Linked DNA regions of Homo sapiens. The protein of the gene in region 3 interacts with the protein of the main gene of each other region in a pairwise test. Each region holds a gene or a part of one and is shown on either strand. Other genes may lie near its edges.

What was found.
Region 1: the proteins of GAD2 (region 3) and TSPAN33 interact in binary tests that used the Homo sapiens proteins (3 or more experiments, as listed by UniProt).
Region 2: the proteins of GAD2 (region 3) and MEST interact in binary tests that used the Homo sapiens proteins (3 or more experiments, as listed by UniProt).

Annotation. Positions count from the first base shown.
Region 1 is NC_000007.14:129,142,996-129,146,740, reverse strand, and holds the start of TSPAN33 (tetraspanin-33), read right to left. Parts: upstream 2,035-3,745; 5' UTR 1,761-2,034; coding exon 1,659-1,760; intron 1-1,658. UniProt on the Homo sapiens protein: Part of TspanC8 subgroup, composed of 6 members that interact with the transmembrane metalloprotease ADAM10.
Region 2 is NC_000007.14:130,490,270-130,494,014, reverse strand, and holds the start of MEST (mesoderm-specific transcript homolog protein), read right to left. Parts: upstream 1,931-3,745; 5' UTR 1,702-1,930; coding exon 1,676-1,701; intron 814-1,675; exon of another isoform or gene 752-813; intron 1-751.
Region 3 is NC_000010.11:26,214,495-26,218,239, reverse strand, and holds the start of GAD2 (glutamate decarboxylase 2), read right to left. Parts: upstream 1,467-3,745; 5' UTR 1,431-1,466; coding exon 1,355-1,430; intron 631-1,354; coding exon 571-630; intron 399-570; coding exon 249-398; intron 1-248. UniProt on the Homo sapiens protein: Catalyzes the production of GABA.

The DNA.
Region 1 (3,745 bases), on a different chromosome or scaffold from region 3:
CTTCACTGATACTTGCCCCTAAGTGGGGAGTCTCTTAGTACATCCCCCAGCACTGGTAGAGTGGTAAGGGATTTTCTTGTGTTTTTCCCTAACCTCCAGCTGAAGCAGAACCTAGACTATGGGAACTTGGGTTGACTGGTTAACTACTAATACTGCCCATACCCCAGCTATAGCAGCAGCCATCTGTGCTGAGGACTTCCCCCAGCGGCACTGTGGTTCAGTAGAAAGGTCACCAGACCAAGCCTGCTAACCAGCTGTTGGACCTTGGACAAAACATTTAACATCTCTGTGCTTTAGTTTTCTACATTTTATAGACATAAACACAGATGCTGGACAAGATGTCTTCTAAAATTTTTTTCCAGTTTTACAACTGAGCATTTGATAGGAGCACAAGTTTCATTTTCCCCAGGAGTAGGATGGCTGAGTGCGCTGTCATCACCACCCTATGGGATTTCTCTCATTTGTCCCAACAGGCCAGCACTTATGGGCTTTGTGTCTGCACCTCACCCCACGGGCCCTGTGAAACCTTTCCAGCAAATGGCTTAGATGTCTGTTCTGCTCCCTCCCCTAGGAAACATATTTTAGACTCAATTCTTCCCTCCTGCAAGTCTGAACTTTAGGTCTCCAGCTGAAGTGGGCAAGGATGGTGGGCTCCAGAAGCAGCAGCTCTGGTGTGGTAGGAGCCAGAAGAGGAGGTGAATGGGGGAAGGATGTCCCTATGTTCTCACACCCCAGGACCTCCAGGACTCTCTAGCCAGGAAACAGGGTCGAGCTGGCATTGCATGATCTGGTTCAGCTCAATTCTCAGCTTCAGCAGTCTTTCTGCCACCCCTGATCACACTGGGTTGGATTTGTGGGGGAGGGAGTCAAGGCCTGCAGACATGAACATACATGCTTAGGTCGGTCAAGTCAACAATGAACGGCAGAGTGGGATGGGAATCCAGGTGTCCGGAGTCCCAGCCCAATACTTTTTCCACCCCAAGCAGAAGATTCTGAAAGGACCCCTGGCCCTCCGGCCCAACACGGGGTCCTGTTTAAAGACACTGGTGATTGCCAGGCTCCAGGGGTGAAGTCTGGTCCTGAGAAGGGTGGCAGGGAGGGGACAAAGTTTGGGGCAGTGCTGGGATGGGAAAGACATCTGCACCTGGAGGCCATTCTTCCTAGACTTTGGGGGGGTGGAGGTGGGGGTAGATGAGGCCTGCAAAAGGAAGAGATGATGCCAGTAACCCATCCTCTCTGAGGTGGTGGAGAGAGAGGTTTGGGTTTTTCCTTCCTCTTCTTTCTTTGCCAGCCGGGCCTCCAGGCCCCCAGGCCTGAAAGTCAGCCGCCACCCCCGACCCCCATCATGAATGTGTCAGTGGGTCCGCCTTGGGCCAACAGGCTCCCTCAAACCCACATTTCTAGCCTAACACAGACCCTCCTCCGACGCCCCGAGAATACCCATCAGTCTTTACTGATTCCCTGGCATACCCTCCTCCCTACAACGCCCCCTGCAGACGCGGCGTCCCCGGGGTGTCCCTCCCCAGGATAAATTCCCCCAAAGTGCCGTCAGCCCAGAAAACTCGGCAGTGCGGCTCCCGCGCGTGGGGCACCCCGGGCCACCCTTCCACCCCGCGGGGGGACCCCGCCGCCCAGGTGCCCTCGACCCCGAGACTCACCCAGAAGAGCATGTTGAAGAAGAAGAGCAGGTATTTCACCAGCGGGCTGACGAAGGAGAACTCCTCCCCGGAGGCGGCCGGCGCCCGGGGTCTCCGCGCCATGGCCCCGCCGCCGCCACCGCCCCCGGGGGCCTATTTCCCAGCGGCTGCCGGCCGGCCTGTGTGCCCCGCGCCCGGGGGCATGAGCCGAGCCGCGCCGCGCAGGAGCCCGGCCGGCGGGGGAGCCTGCGCTGCGGCGGGAGGCGCCCGAGCCGGGGGGCCGGGAGCGGCGCGGGCCGGGGAACCGCGCCTGGAGCTGCTGGAGCCGCGGTGGGCAGCGCGAGCGGACGAGACTCACCCGCGGCCGCAGGACCAGCCCGGCCAGCCAGGCGCCCAGGAAACCCGGCCCGCCCCCGGCCGCTCATTGGCGCGACGGCTGGAGCCCGACTTCCCATTGGCTCGTGGCTGATGTCACTAAGTATCCAGCCATCCCTCTCCACCGAGAGTCGGGGGAGACACCTGTTCTGTGAGGGATAACTTGTTAAAGGGTCAGCGGTTCTGCCTCTCCCCTACCCCTAAGGGAAAGCATCCAGGCTGCAGCTGCTCAAAGGAACAAGAGTGAGGAGAAGGAATGCACAGTGCATCCCACACCCACGTCCTCCGCCCAGCTGCTGTGCACATATGCAAACACACATACATTAAAATCAACAAGTACGCACACCGTGTGTTGAGCAATGCGCCGAAAGCTCTGGGAACGCGGGAGAACAGAAACAATCCCTGGGGGATGACAATAAAATCAGGGAGACAAAACTAACCTACACATAACAATTAGACCAAGGGTAGATGCAATCTTGTTTAGTAACTATACATTTTAAATGCTTATTTCAGAAGCTCTACAACCCAACAGTGGAAATTTGGAAACATCACCGCCAATCCCGCCATCCTAATTCATTGCTGTCTCAATTCCCGCCCCCGCAGCCCCTCTTCCCTTGGTCTACTTGCAGACACCGTTTTTAACATGCTGATCCGGCACACACAGGTTGAGTGCAGCGTAGCTGGCGAATATATTATGCTGGCTACCCTAACTAATACAAGTTGAACCTCGGGGAGGGAATCTGATTCCACCATAATTAGCTGCGTGAAAGCTGCAAGCTACTTAATCTCTCGGAGCCTCAGTTTGTTTAATGTTAAATGGGAGAGTCCTGACCTAGATGGCGATTTGAGGATTAAATGAGATAATGCATGTAGCTCACTTAGCACATGGCTGGCACATGGAAGGCTCATCAAAGGCATTACAGTATTTCGTTTTAGCAGAATTAAGAATCCAGTGTGGAAATATGATAACCGCACAAATAATTATAATACGTTTGGTAGAAGGTTAGTGAAGATAGCGTGGCAAGTGAAATTAGGGGAGGATGGGATTTAGAATAGTAGAGACGGAGGGGAAACATAATCCAGGTGGATTAAAAAAAAAGGGGGTGAACCAAAGCCTGGAGGTGCAAAAGCACGCCATGTGTTTCGTGCAAAATAAGCAGACTGCTGTGGCTGGAGCACAGGGTATGCTTGGAATAGCAGTGGGACATAATGCTGACCGATGCCGTTACATGTGGAATTGTGTTAAAACTGCGGAAGTAATTGAATATCAGATTGGGGAGTTAGTGCTTAATTGACTTGGAAATAAGAGTTTTGGAGAAAAGGATGATGGAAAACCCATGGTTTTCAGTTGGAGTGGGAAAGAGGCTGGAGAGAGAAAGATTTGTTAGAAGCATGCTGCTCATCATCCAGATAATCAGAAATCAGGAACTGATTTAGGAGTAATAGACAGAATAATAGATGGTTAGGAGAGGATAGAAGGGAAGGCATTGGAAAGATAGAATCTCTAGGGCTAGGCTGTGGTGACAAGCAGGCATAACAGGAGCACCAAGAGTGGAGGTTAAAGAAGGCAGTCACAGCCAGGTTACTGGGAGATTACTGGCCCTTAACAGGTTAAGTGACACTGGAGATCAGTTTTAGTATAAAGCAGGTAGGGTGGGCAGAAGTCATTTTCCAAGAGGTTAATGAGTGAATAGGTAGGTGCCATTTTCAGATGTTAGTGCGGGGAGGATAGA
Region 2 (3,745 bases), on a different chromosome or scaffold from region 3:
CCTGTCCATAAGACGGATAGAACCATTTGGTCCTACTTCTCAAGGTAATACTAGAAATGGTTCAAAAAAGTGCCAGAACATGATGGTTATATCACAGTTTTCACCCAACAATAGCAGGCTGTATCCCAGTATCTCCTTGAAAGGTCAGATGACAAAAACCATTAGGTTTTGACGATCATTTGCCCAGCCCTATCTGTCCTGTACTTCAATGTATACATTTTCATGTGCAGATTTCATTACTCCTTTCCCCCAGTGCTTCTCATCGCATTCATCCCCGGGGTTCCAGCAGCTGAATCTCTGCAGTGACTCAGCAGAGAGCCCCGGGAGGGGCGGCCAGAGCGGCAAATGGGGAGGCTTCCCCGCCGCTGCTCAGGGAAAGTGGGGGGTTAAAAAACGAGGCTATCGACCAACATACTCCACTCCTGGACACCCCCCTCCACACCCTCCTCCTCTTACTCCAAGAAAGCAAAGAGGCAACCTCTCAGGGGGCCATTTTTTGTCTTATTACCTCAGTAAAAATGCCCCCATGAACTTTTAGGATTTTTAGAAGTGAAGCAACCTAGCCGTCAGTAGGCAAAATGGGTTAAGCAAACATTTTTTGGCCAAAATCCCAACTATTTGATGAGCCATGAGCGGAGACAATAAGCAAACTCCAGTAACAAACTTTCCAAAAATTTCTGAGCCTTGATTTCTTCATCTTGTAAACAGAAAAACACACTCCCGTAATAATACCACCCAACCTGCCGCCCACCTGATGGCGTCGCCGCGAGACGAACCACTTTGAAAACCCGCGAAACCAAGGTGAACAATCCCTGCGCAACATGACAGTTTGGTCACATCGCCGTTCTCACTCGCGCTTGTTACTGAAATCTGAAAAATACTTAAGGCGGCTGACGGGCACTGCGAGTTCTAGTCACTGCGGTGACTCCCGCCACCGTGATACCTGGGTCTTGAAATCCTAAGCTGCACCGCGGCGATCTCGGCACTGCGATTATCCCGTTCTTGAAATCCTAAGGTGCGCCACGGAGACACCGGGGTTCTAAAAATCCTACATCGCACCAGGGCGATGCTGGGGCCTATCCTTTAAGTCGCACCAGAGCGATGCTGGGGTTCTAAAAATCCTACATCGCACCAGGGCTTTGCCGGGATCTATAAATCCTAAATCGCGCCACGGCAACGGCGGAGTCTAAGAATCCTGAATCGCACCAGAGGGAAGCCGGAGTCTAAATATCCTAAATCAAACCAGGGCGATGCTGGGGGTTAGAAATCCTAAATCATGCTGCAGCAATGACTGAGTATAAAAATCCTAAATCGCACCAGGGTGATGCCAGGATCTAAAAATCCCAATTCGCATCAGGGTGAGACCAGGGTCATTATGGATCCTAAGTCATATCAAGATGACGCTGGGGTCCAGAAATCCTAAATCTCACCACGACGATCCCGGGGTCTAGAAATCCTAACCCAAGGAGGTCCCGCGTTCTGAACATTCCATTGCGGGCAGGAGTGACACCCCCTCCTCAAGTAGGCAGAGCGGGCGCGGAATGCGTGCCGCCTGTCGGTAGAGTTTTCGCCCAGAGGCAGCCCCAGCTCGGACACGGGCACACAGTCCTCCGCTCGCCTGCGCCCTAGTCCCAGGGCCGCCAGCCACACCCCCTCGTTCCCACCGCACACTCACCTGCGGAGGCGATCTCGGCGCACCATGGCCGCGTTATCCCATGCCGCCCGCCGCAGCGTTGCAGAGCACCGGGCGCCGCAGAGCCCGCAGCCGTGCAGAGCTGGCCAGCAGCGGGGGCGCAGCCCGCAGCCCACAGCCCGCGCAGGGCGGCGCCGCGCCGGGCAGCTACAGCCACTCCGGCGTGCGCTGCGGCACTGCGCTTGCGAGGCGCAGCTGCCGCAGAGGAGGTGCCGGGGTGTGCTGGTTGCCGCGGCAGCGCGGAGCGAGTGGGCACCGACTTTTAGAGCCCACCCGCGCCCCGCCCCTAGCCCGCCCATCGCCGCAGAACCCCTACCGCCTGCTCCCTTGCTCGCCGCAGAGCCCCTCCCAGCCGCTCTACCACCGCCATGGCCACAAAGATGGGGTGCCCCTCTAACAGTGGCTCCTTTAGGGGGCACCTTCAGGGGTGTCGAGCCCCCTCCCCAAGACCCCGCTGCTCCCTCGTTAACCGCCAACCCTGAGCCCGAGATTCTGCTGCAGAAACCCTCCCCTGATGAGTTAAGGCCACGGGCAAAAACAGCAGACCCCTGAGTGCCCCAACTCTTTCCTTAGACCACCCACAAACCCCACAGGCCGCCCACAAACCCCACAGGCTGCCCACAAGCCCCACAGGAGGATGGCCGCTCGAACTAAGGGGCAGCAGGGCTCTGGGGTGCCGGCCGTGGCGCCTGCTCCCATCCCTCGTTCGAAGCGTGGGTACTGAACCGTGAGAGGTGGCGAGCCACGAGGGCCCTATGCGCCCTAAGCTTAACTACCGGTAACCACCAAGGGCACGAGCAAGCGGCTAGGGAGCAACAAGCTCTGTTGGACCCACCACCAAGCTAGTAAACAGATTCATGGGATGGCCACTATGGCCAAAGTTGCACAAAGTCCGGTTTCTCCCGCTCCAGCCACCGCCGCTGCGCGGGGCAGGTTTCCTTTACAGCAGCGCGACGTGGTCAGCATGCCAGACGCCTGGCCACAGCAGCGCCCTCGCAGCCCCGCTCGCTGCATGCGCCGGTCCGCGCTGCACAGAACAGTGGGCACAATTAGGAGAGCAAAGCCCCCTTTATTTACGTAAGATAGAATCACAATGCAAGGGCCCAGAGGCACAAGAAAGAGGGAGGAATTTTTCTAATCCATAATCCTTTAAAAGGCATCCCTTACGCCTTTGAAAAGTGTAGAGTATCACGAAGTGTCTGTGTTCATTTTCTGACCGTAAACTGAAATACTGGTGAACAAACGTGGGGTGCGAGCGGGTGAGCGGGGCGGCCGGCCGGTGCCCGCTGCATCCAGAGGGGGCGCTGCAGGCCTCCCTTCGGCTGCGCACGGCCCGGGCCCTCCGCGGCTCTGCAACTCTGCACCCCGAAAGGTTCGGTGCTGGACCGCGGGGCATCCAACCCGGGACCGGGGGCGACCCACGGACACTGAGGAAACTACCGCCTATAAGCCTATCATCAGAACCTCTGGCACAACACAGGTACACTTCTGCAGGGGTCTGGTTGCCCCCAGAAAAAGCACTCATGAAACAAATGCTGATTTAGCACCTACAGGGCACTAAGAACCGGGGGTGCGAAATAAATGAGAAATAGCCCCGGCCCGAAAACAACACACGGGCCATCTGGAGGGGAAGACAGACAAGAACTGCCACTTTGTAAAATTTTCCTTTTAATTTCCTAGCGACGTTTGTGGCAGTTGACCCACTCCTCCCTAACGTGTAAGGCCCTCAGAGGCAGAGCCCAAGTATTATTCACCTTTTGTAGCCCCAGAGCCCGCCACGGTGCCGGCCACAAAGCTGGCCCCTAATAAATACTGCTTGAATGAGTACAAGAATTTGAGGGCGCACAGGGGAGGAAGTAATTAAGGGGAGGGGCGAAGGGTGGTCTTGAATGATGAATAGACATTTACCAGAGAGACAAAGAACATTCCAGCCGGAGGGGACGGCTTTCGCAAAGCACCGGAGGCTCAGGGCCGCGTGTTTGGGGAAAACGGTTAGTCCTTTGAGCCGGCAAAAAATTAGGATAGCAAGAGAATTTCATCGTAGGGAATTAG
Region 3 (3,745 bases):
AGGGCCGCGCTGGGGGAAGAGCGCCACGGCCTCAGAGCCCTCTTGGAGCTCCGAGGCCAGGTTCGGGGGCTTGGACCCAGCGGGCAGGTCCCGCATTTCTCGCTTTTATCTGAAGATTCTGGCAGGTCCCGCCTCCGCTGCCACCTCGACGCCCCTGTCCGGCTCTCAGCGCCGGACCCGCACCGGCCGCGGTGGGCGGGGCAGAGAGAGGGGCAGGGGCGCCCCGGGGCTCCCCGCTGAGTCTTTACCTGTTGCATGGAGAAACGCGTAGTTGACATCCACTTTGGAGCAGCTGCAGGGCTTCTGGTCGCAGGCGCAGGCGGCCTTCCGGGCGGCGGCCCGCGGGGGTTGGCTCCCGCCGCTCTCCGCCGGCTTCTCGGCGTCTCCGTAGAGCAGGGCTGGGTAAGGACACCGAACGCGGGCCTCGTCAATCCTCCGCCGGGCCCGGCTCCCTCGCTCCCGCCTACCCGCAGCCAGGAAACCCCGACTCCGCTGACTGGGATGCGGAGGTGAGAAGACTGCTTGGACCCCGCGGGCCGACCTTGGCCGCCCCGGTCCCTGGGCACTCACCGCACAGTTTGTTTCCGATGCCGCCCGTGAACTTCTGAGCCACTTGGCACCAGGCTCGCGCTGCAAGGAAGAATAGGCAGGCAGACAGCGAGGCAGAAAGAGAACAACAGACGGACGTGTGAAATTTCGTTCTATGTGAAAATCAATCAGTCCGGGGTCCTAGGAGGGGCCGCCTTCCTCCTGGGGGCCGCTCAGGACTCGGTGAGGCCGGCAGGTGCAGAAGGCAAGCGGGAGGCTGGCGGCCCGGGCCAGCCCTCATTTCCTTTATCTGTTTCCCGAGGAGAAGCCCACACCGCTGCCCTTCCAGGTGCCAATCGGCTCAGGCAAATTCCTCTCCCTGCCTACCTTGGACGAGTTTTCCTAAACACTGAAGCTATCCATTTTTTCGCAGACTGTCTTTCTAGATAAAGAAATCTCTCACCTTTCCCATTTTTTTTTTCTATCTTCACGGTCACTCCGTCCCACCCCAGGGTCCAGACACCCGGATCTTAGCAGCGCCCCAGGACCACGGAATTCCATGTCCCCGAGACACCGCGGTCTTTGGGGGGCTCTTCCAACCTTCTGTGGAACGGGCCTGAGACTATTTGGGCGTCTTCCCAGGGTACAAGAGGCTGTAGAGGTCTTGAGCTCTTGGGCCGTCAAGGACTTAGCCCAAAAGCAGGGAGAAGCGCCCGAAGAAGTTTCCTGTTGCAGGTGGAAAAACCTCCTTCGTCTTCTCCGTAGTTCCGCAAACCCCAGACCACCGCAAAACTCGCCCGCCGCAGGCCCCCGTTCTCCTTCCTACCTGTGCCGGGATTCTCGGAATCCCCAGAGCCATCTTCCGACCCGAAAGACCAAAAGCCAGAGCCCGGAGATGCCATCGGCTTTGGAGACTGGAGCAGGTCGCCTGCGAGTGCGAGCTGCGGGCGAGCTGCCTCGGGCTTGGCCCTGCGCGCGCGTGCGTGCCCGTGTGGCGGGAGGAGGGCACCGCGCGGGGACCGGCGGGGCCGAGCGGCGAGGGCGGGTGTCACGCAGGAACAGAAAACGTGCGTGTCTGTGCGTGTGTGTATGCGAGCTGGAGACAGGGTTTAGGGACGTGGCAACCCTTTGGAAGCCGGGGAGCTTTAAAAGAGACCGGGACTACCTAAGGGTCCTCGGAGCCCGGACTCAGGAAAGCGCGGAGAGCCCCAGAGCATTTGAGGGAAAGGGAGCCCAGTGGGGATGAATGAGGGGGCGGCGGAGGAAAAAAACACGAGAGAGGGAGGGAGCTGAGTCGTGAGGATGCGAGGCAGACCATGCACGCCAGCTGGAGTCAGAGTGAGGGGGTGGGAGGCGTGCCAGCGCGTCCTCGGGCGAGCCAGAGGCGGGAAGTGCGGGCGGCCGCTGTCCCGGGTGCTGCCACAGCCGCTGCGCGCCAGCGTCAGCGAGGGGCAGACTGGGGAGACCTCGGCGAGGCGGGAAGCGTGGCCCAGAGGAGTTTTCTGTGTGCATCGATTGGGGTTTTGTTTGAGGTCTGGCTCCAGCTGAGGGGAAGGAAGCGGGGTTCCCGCGCCGTTTTCCTCCAAGCAGGTGCTGAGGTCACTGCGACCTCGAGAGCTCGCGCCCCGGGCGGGCATCAGGCGCCGTTCACGAGCCTGGGGAGGGGACGGCGGGGGAAGGGCTCCTACCCGCTGATGGGCTCATTTCAGCGCCTTGGTAGAACCTGACGCCTGCCTGCTGAACCGCGCCGTACCCGGGGGCGCACCGTTCCTGCGTAGCCAAGGGCTAGATCGCGGGACCCACCGTCCAGGCTCTGAGTGACGGCTGGGGAGAATGACTGCTGATTGAGGCAATTAAAATCCACGCTGGAGTCTACTGAGGACCTCGGGCTGGGGAAAAAAAAATAAAACGAATGGAAACTTCTTGGAAGAGAATGAGGCAGAGCGGCCAGAGTCGGCAGGATTGATGGCGGGTGGGGGATGGAATCAGGGCATTTGGTGACCTTGGCCCGCGGAGGCGTGGAAGCGCCCGCTGCTTGCGTGTAAGGGGGATCTGTGTGCGCCTGGGAGGGGAGAACAGGGTTTCCAACTAAGCAATCTCGGCTTTACAAATCCGAGTAGGAAAGAAGGCATCGCCTGCAGGGCCCTCGTTTTAAGGGGCTTCAAACCAATGCCCCCCCTCGCCCCCAGAGAATCTTCGCGGTAGCGGGTGACCCGGAAGCGCGAGATTGGTTCTCTCTGAGGCGTATTAGGAGGCGGTTTCTCTTTTTCTAATAAAGAAAGGAGGAGAAAGTCAGAATCGTTCTGATGATTTCCTTTCTACAAAAAGCTATTGCAGACAGGGAGGACGCCCTAAGGATTGGGAGCCCTTTGACAGTTTGCGCTGCGTTCTCCTGGCAGTGGAGATGAACTTCAAGTGCACCTCGGAGCTCCGGGGCTCTGGGGGAGACGGAGGGAGGGAGAGAGAGGAAAGGGCTGAGGTCGGCTTCCCGAGGCGGCTGCCTTCCCCGCGCCTGGCCAGAGCGCCTGTCATTTCCATTGTGTTCACAAGTCGTTTTATTTCTCTGACCTCCTGAACCAGCCACCAAAGCTGCTAACAAAGCAGAGACCCGGGGATCCCGTCTGGGCGAGCACCCCTCGACCCTCGCTTAGAAGGGACATCCTGGGGCCCATGCTGGACGCATACAGGCCCAAGTCCTGTGTGCTCGAGCATAACTGTCCCTGGTCAATTCTCTCCACAAAGCGCTGTCTTCTTCTCGCGTGCCTGAGTCCAGGGGTTCCCTGAGGAGTCATGGGATCCACACTATGGCAACTGGGCCCAGGCGCCAGGATGAGAGCAGGAAACCAGTCGGGCGTTGATAGCGTCCTGCCGAAGGCTGGCACTGAGCGTGCTAGGTGAAGTCTGTTCCAGGCTGTGGGAGCCCGGGTGGTCGAAAACTCAGGGCTCAGTTTGGCTCCTCTTTCTTGCTCTCCTGGCTCTGACACTCTAGGTCACCACAATAACAACTCCGGAAACCTAAAGACTTGTGGTTCAGCCATCTGCACTTCAGGCATGGCAGCTCCGCAGCTCTCTCCAGCCTCGCAGAGGCTGGTTCTTTGTTGAAATCCATATCAAATCCTGCAAAGGTTTTCCTTCAAGCCAGCAGTCTAGGGTTGCAGAACTTTTCTACTATGGATGAGTGGTTGAAAACATAAAGGTTCTTAAAAGCAAGCGTTTA